Homo sapiens: one gene and its partner. The protein of the gene in region 1 interacts with the protein of each later gene in a biochemical or structural test. Each region holds a gene or a part of one and is shown in the gene's direction. Other genes may lie near its edges. The genes, in order: PARP3 and APLF.

Evidence for each region.
Region 2: the proteins of PARP3 (region 1) and APLF form a complex in vitro, tested with the Homo sapiens proteins (one study listed by BioGRID).

The regions. Positions count from the first base shown.
Region 1 is NC_000003.12:51,945,232-51,949,556, forward strand, and holds the end of PARP3 (protein mono-ADP-ribosyltransferase PARP3), read left to right. Parts: intron 1-263; coding exon 264-413; intron 414-621; coding exon 622-708; intron 709-934; coding exon 935-1,112; intron 1,113-2,508; coding exon 2,509-2,664; intron 2,665-3,079; coding exon 3,080-3,249; 3' UTR 3,250-3,636; downstream 3,637-4,325. UniProt on the Homo sapiens protein: Mono-ADP-ribosyltransferase that mediates mono-ADP-ribosylation of target proteins and plays a key role in the response to DNA damage. Mediates mono-ADP-ribosylation of glutamate, aspartate or lysine residues on target proteins.
Region 2 is NC_000002.12:68,575,479-68,578,337, forward strand, and holds part of APLF (aprataxin and PNK-like factor), read left to right. Parts: intron 1-2,341; coding exon 2,342-2,544; 3' UTR 2,545-2,859. UniProt on the Homo sapiens protein: Histone chaperone involved in single-strand and double-strand DNA break repair.

The DNA.
Region 1 (4,325 bases):
CTGGCAGGGGTGCGGGCAGGCAGTGGGGCACTGAACAGACAGCCTAGGCGAGCGAGATGAAGGGCAGGTGGCCAAGAAGGCCCAGAAGGATGGACTGCCTGGGCAGGCTGACAGACGGGTGGGGAAGGCTGGGCAGACAGATAGGGTGGGGAGGGACAGGTGGGACACACAGGTGGGGTGGCTACAATACCAGTCATGTGAGAGAGGAGAGGGGAGGCCAGAGGTCAAGTGGGAAGACAAACTGCCAGGGCCCATCATCCTAGGTGCTGGCGGACATCGAGCTGGCCCAGGCCCTGCAGGCAGTCTCTGAGCAGGAGAAGACGGTGGAGGAGGTGCCACACCCCCTGGACCGAGACTACCAGCTTCTCAAGTGCCAGCTGCAGCTGCTAGACTCTGGAGCACCTGAGTACAAGGTGAGTTGGGCCCCACAGAGGGGCCAGGCTATCAGTGGGCACTGTCCCTCTGCCCACCTGCCCTCGAGGTGCCCAGAGGAATACTCGCCCTCAGCCTTCTCTTCCTGTGTCTCCAGGGCCTGAGGAGGGCTTGGGACTGGGGGAAGAAAAATGGGGGATTAGCTCCTGAGCCTCCCACCCTGGCAACCAGCTTCTGCTCTCCCCACAGGTGATACAGACCTACTTAGAACAGACTGGCAGCAACCACAGGTGCCCTACACTTCAACACATCTGGAAAGTAAACCAAGAAGGGGAGGTGAGGGAGGTTCCCCCACCTCTCCCCCATCACCACTGTGCCTTAGGAAGATGTCCTTGGCTAATCGGTCCCTTAGCAAATCGTTTAGCAGCTCTGGTCAGTTTCTGCCGGCCATGAGTGCGCGTGAGTAAGCAGAGGGACACTAGGCCTTGGTCACAAGCAGCAGGGCAAGGCGACTGAGTGCTCGGGTGGCATCACTCCCATTTCTCACTTCCTCTCCACTCAGGAAGACAGATTCCAGGCCCACTCCAAACTGGGTAATCGGAAGCTGCTGTGGCATGGCACCAACATGGCCGTGGTGGCCGCCATCCTCACTAGTGGGCTCCGCATCATGCCACATTCTGGTGGGCGTGTTGGCAAGGGCATCTACTTTGCCTCAGAGAACAGCAAGTCAGCTGGATATGGTGAGGTGCCCCTCTGGGCCAAGCCCTGGGAGGGTTGGCACTAAGATGGATTGGGCCCAGTCCTTGGCCACTGGAAATTCATGGTGAATCCAAGAGAGGAATCCTTTAATGGTTAATGACTACAGTGCTCAGTGGGCTGTCCTGGGCTTTGGTGGCGGGGGGTCTTAGAGAAAGTGTCTGATGGTCAGGGATGGCTTCCTGGGGGAGGCAATACAGATAGGATGGGTGCACCAACCAGACCTGGGAGGGGGTAAAAGGGGAGCCTTTGAGCCAGGTGTGGTGGCATACACCTGTAGTTCCATCTACTCTGGAGGCTGAGGCAGGAGGAACGCTTGAGCCCACAAGTTTAAGGCTGCCATGAGCTATGATCACACTCCAGCCTGTGTGACAGAGCCAGACTCCATCTGAAAAAATAAAAATAAAAAAGAGGAGACGTCAAGGCAAGGGGATAGGCAGAGAGGCTGGGAGGATGTGAGGATGTGGCAGGTCAGGGCTTCCAAACACTTCCTGATACTGGAGCTCAGAGCAATGCCTAGCCGGGGGCAGGGTGGGCTAGGGGCCCAGAACGATCGAGGAGGCTTTATCCAGAGAGTGATGGTTAGCCCAGCTGGACTTGTCTGTAGCAGGATCCCAGTGGCTACAGCTGTGGAGAGGGGGGCAGCAGCCAGAGGCTGCAGAGAGGCCATCCTCTTATCCAGGCTGGATGTGATGGGTGCCTGGCCCAAGGGCTGGGAAGTGCAGGGGAGGGAGCCCATGAGAGGGGCATGTAGGAGATGGGATGGGGAGCGTGTGGGAAAGGGTCAAGGCTGTCTCCAGTGACTTCTGAGTTTCTGGCCAGGAGTGTCCTCACCAAAATGACCCCCCCAGACCAGCTCCTCCACCCAGGCTGTCCCCATCATTGGAGGCCACCACCCAGCTGGCCAAGAGAGCAAGGACCAAGGATTCATCCCAGAACAGATGGGGCTGAAGTTCTAGGATGCCTGAGGTCACCAAGAGCAAGGGGTCCACCAGGAGGGCAGAGGGGCTTAGGAAAGAGTGGCGGGGTGGAGGGCTTAGGAGAGCCAGCGCGAGGAAGTCCCAGGTAGGGGCTGATGATGTCAGGAGCAAAGTCAGCAGAGCAGGCCAGGGAGAAAAGCCCCTGCCACGGGTTTGGTCACTGGGAGGCCATTGCTGACCTTGGTGAGGACAGCAGAGGGTACAGATGCCTGGCCATAGGGAGCACAGTGAGGTGGGAGGGAGCAGGCCGGGACAAGGAGGGAGTGACGGTTGGGGGAGAGTGAGCCTTTTCTTGCTGGAGCAGCAAAGCCAGAAGGAATAACATCGCAGCAGAGAGGGGCCCCACAGGTCAGCAGGAGGCAGGCTGAGCTGCCCACCGGTGCCTCCCTGTGTCTTGCAGTTATTGGCATGAAGTGTGGGGCCCACCATGTCGGCTACATGTTCCTGGGTGAGGTGGCCCTGGGCAGAGAGCACCATATCAACACGGACAACCCCAGCTTGAAGAGCCCACCTCCTGGCTTCGACAGTGTCATTGCCCGAGGCCACACCGAGCCTGGTGAGTCCTCAGAAGCTGTACAGCCCAAGGAGAGAGGTGGGGCCGAGATAGGGGCTGGGACATTTTCAGGGAGGGGGCTGTGAAGAGGGACAAAAAGAAGCTTCCCTGTCGTCACTCAGTTTGTCATTTGACAAACATCCACTGGTTCAACACATCATTCCTGGGCATCCCGGAGGGCTTCAAAAAGAGGAGTTGTTGACTGAGCATTGAAGGATTAGTACAAGTTTCCCAGAGAGAAGTCGGGGAGGACACCCCAGGCAGAAGCCCCAGCCCCTGCAGTGGTTTGGAGGTGGGCAAGGTGGAAATGAGCAGGCGTGCCCTGTGACAGACATGGAGAGCATAGGGGGCAGGACTTACTCGTAAGGCCTGGGACCAGTGACCCCTGGGCCACCCTGGCCCTTGCTGTGCCCTGCAGATCCGACCCAGGACACTGAGTTGGAGCTGGATGGCCAGCAAGTGGTGGTGCCCCAGGGCCAGCCTGTGCCCTGCCCAGAGTTCAGCAGCTCCACATTCTCCCAGAGCGAGTACCTCATCTACCAGGAGAGCCAGTGTCGCCTGCGCTACCTGCTGGAGGTCCACCTCTGAGTGCCCGCCCTGTCCCCCGGGGTCCTGCAAGGCTGGACTGTGATCTTCAATCATCCTGCCCATCTCTGGTACCCCTATATCACTCCTTTTTTTCAAGAATACAATACGTTGTTGTTAACTATAGTCACCATGCTGTACAAGATCCCTGAACTTATGCCTCCTAACTGAAATTTTGTATTCTTTGACACATCTGCCCAGTCCCTCTCCTCCCAGCCCATGGTAACCAGCATTTGACTCTTTACTTGTATAAGGGCAGCTTTTATAGGTTCCACATGTAAGTGAGATCATGCAGTGTTTGTCTTTCTGTGCCTGGCTTATTTCACTCAGCATAATGTGCACCGGGTTCACCCATGTTTTCATAAATGACAAGATTTCCTCCTTTTTTAAGGCTGAATGGTACTCTGTTATGTATATGCACCACATTTCCTCTATCCGTTCATCTATCAGTGGACACCAAGCTGCTTCCATATCTTGGCTATTGTGAACAGTGCTGCAGTGAACTGGGAAAGCAGACGTCTCTTGAACATACTGATTTCATTTCCCTTTGATGTATACCCAGTAGTGGGGTTTCTGGATCCATATCACCCCTTCTTGCCAGGCTCCCCTGTGTCCCAGACATCGATCCCCCTTCCCTCCAATCCCTGTTAGCCTTGATGTGTCTGTGGCCCCAGAGTCTTGCCTCCTAAAGTGATGGGTGTGGTACGGGCGTATTACAGGGACACAGATGCAGCAGCTTACTCAAGGGGCACAGCTGAGAGTGGCTTGGATCCCACATCCACCCAGGCCGTCCATCCTGGCCTGGACTGCATGTTGGAGCCATGTGGTCACCAAGGTAGGCTAAACTGCAGGCATGTGCAAGCAGCTTTACTAAACATGGTATTCTCTTGCCCCAGCCTCTGCCTGTCTGTGCCACAACTGTGCTGGGCCTGGGCCTCCAGCCACACTCCAGGGAGCGAGCGCTCACATGGGTTGATGTGGATCATGCACATACTCCTTGCCCCTCCTGGTCCATCACTGCAACAACCTGCTTCCTCTAATTGAGCCTTCAAGGGGGACCCCCACTGTCTACTCAGAAC
Region 2 (2,859 bases), on another chromosome or scaffold:
GACTTTTTTTTGTGAAGAATAGACTAGAATGGAAGCAAGAGAGCCAGTTAGGAGGATATTGTATTCAGGAAGAAAATGATAGTATTGGGGCCAGGGCATTAGAGTGGATGTGATCAGAAGTGGTGGATTTACTTTGCAGGTAAAGCTAACAGGATCTCTTGAGGTATTAGATGTTGGGTTCTCGGTGAGGGATATTAAAGGATGACTACAAGATTTCTTGCTAAAACAACTAGATGGTTGGATGATTAGAGAAGTCATATATTCAAGACTGATAAATAGAATGACCAGATCTGGGTAAAGCAACTAAAGAGTTATGTTCTGGAAATGTTATATTCCAGGTGCCTGTAAGTCATCCAAGTACAGATAATGCTTAAGTATCCAGATAAATGAGTCTGGAATTCAGGGCAGTAGGTCAGGGCTTAAGATGTGAATTTGGGAATTTAGGACATAAGACTGGATGGAATCATCTAAGGAGTGAGTTAGAGAAGAGGTTCCAGCTCTAAAATTTAGAGATTAGGATGATGAGGAAAATCCAGCAAAGAAAACTGAGAAGGAGCAGCCAATGAAGTGAGCAGAGAACCTGGAGTTGTTTCACCTTTATATCTGTTTTTCTTGTAAAGCTGGTAAGTGATTTCTGAATCTGAAAGGAAACTGTTTATTGAGATATCATTAGGACATGTTATGTGATAATGTGCATTCACATCTTAGAAAAAAAAGTTATGTGTATAAGGTATTTCCAAGAGGAAAATAGACAAAAATAGAGATATTGATGTTCTTTCCTTCTCATTCCCTTTCCCGACTGCAAACTGCCTTCCAATTTTTAAAAAATGCATTTTATTATTTTAAAAATATGGGTAACTGAGATTAGACATAAAACATGCCCTCAAGATGTTTACAGGAGCTGTATATACAGATATATGTAATGCAAGATTTTCCTTAAGGAACTGGTGAGCTTCCTACTATAATGATAATTGGGCAAGTTATTATATTGCCTTTTTAGCCTTGGCTACCAAGAATCTTGGGGATAAATTTGATGCTCTATTTTTAATAATTGTGTTAAAAATTGAGGTTATCATATGTGTATTCTGCTTTTTATGTTTTTGGTTTCTACCTTTATTAGCATTTTATTATTATAAGCTGTCTCAAATCCTTTCTGGAATGCGTACTGATATTAAGAAAAATATAAATATATTGGGCTATAAGGGTTAAAAGGACAGATACATTACTTCCTTTGTCATTTTTCTCATTTTTCCCAATTCATTGACTTTATTTTTAAAATTATAACTATATGTTGCATGTGAACATTTTAGAAAGATGTTAACCAAAGTGTATACTAAAGTACAGACATTAATGTTTTTAACCTATACATTTGCTGTTCATTAGGGACTGTCCTCTGCCATTCAGATTTCTAGATGAAATCTTCCTAATTGTTTCTTAAATGTTCCACACTGTCCTAGAGTCTTTCACTGCTTTATTTTAAAGCAACTCTGTAGCTCGCTGTGGAAAGAGTAAGATCGGGGAAGAAATGAATTTGGAGACAGAAGAATTCTAGTATTATAATATTACTTAGAAATCTGTAAATTCTAATGTCTATTATTATGGCATTCCTAGTCTTACTGAAACATGAACTGTAAGAATATCTTAGACCTATAAAACTAAACTTTCCAAAGTATCTAAGCTCACGCCCTGATGTGTCAGCAAGCTTTTGCTAGGTTTGCTGTGATAACAAACATTTCTAAATTTCAGTGCCTTATAACAATAAATACACTTATTTAAGTGTATTTCTCCTTATTGCAGCTGTGAATTGGCTGTGGCCCTGTGCCATGTGTATTCTCATCTTGGAATCCAGGCTGAGGGATCAGCCTCTATCTGGGACATGCTGTTCTTGTGGCAGAGGGGAAATGGCAATAGCAGAACCAGAGAAAGAGTCTTAAAGCATCCTTTTGGAAGTGACACACACTATTTCCACTCACATTTCTTTGAGCAATCACTGAGAAGTGAGGAAGTATAATCATATCACAGGAAGGGGCAGTGAATAATTGGGACAAAAATACATTCTACCACATGGGAAGATGGGATGTTGTGAATATGATTATGAGATTAAGGAACCATTATTATTAATCTCATGGGTCATTTTAGTTTCAGGAGCCTCATGGTAGGAAAAGTTAGAATAATAAATAACAAAGCATCATTTTAGTGCCGTTTCCAGAAATTTGTAGTGGTAAGCTATGCATTAATAAAATTAATCCTCTGGATGCAGAAAGACATTTTATAGGTAGATGTCTGTCATCCCAGGTTGAGTGGTGATTGATGTGTTGTGTACCAATCTTCTGTTTTGCAGTGAGAAATGTTTTAGATGAAGATAATGATAATGTTGGGCAACCCAATGAGTATGACCTGAACGACAGCTTTCTAGATGATGAGGAAGAAGACTATGAGCCAACAGATGAAGATTCTGACTGGGAACCAGGAAAGGAAGATGAAGAGAAGGAAGATGTGGAAGAGCTTTTGAAAGAAGCAAAAAGGTTTATGAAAAGAAAATAGTAACTAACTTCTGTAGTCATATCTGCCTTACATTTACTTTTTCTTTGTGGGAAAACATTTATGAACTAAGGAGGTACTTAAGTGACAGTTATTTTCCTTCTTTTGATAGTTAATGACTTTTACTACTGACTCTTTACAAATGAGACATTGAAACGTCAGCCTTCAGTATAATAGATGGAATTTTTTGTTGCCTTGCCTTTTCTTTCCTACTTAAAGCATCTGGAAATAGGAAGACAGAGAAGGTAGAGTAAAAATGGATATTTTTTATGTACTTTGTATATTGGTAATAAAAAGTAAAAGCCATAGGTTGCATAA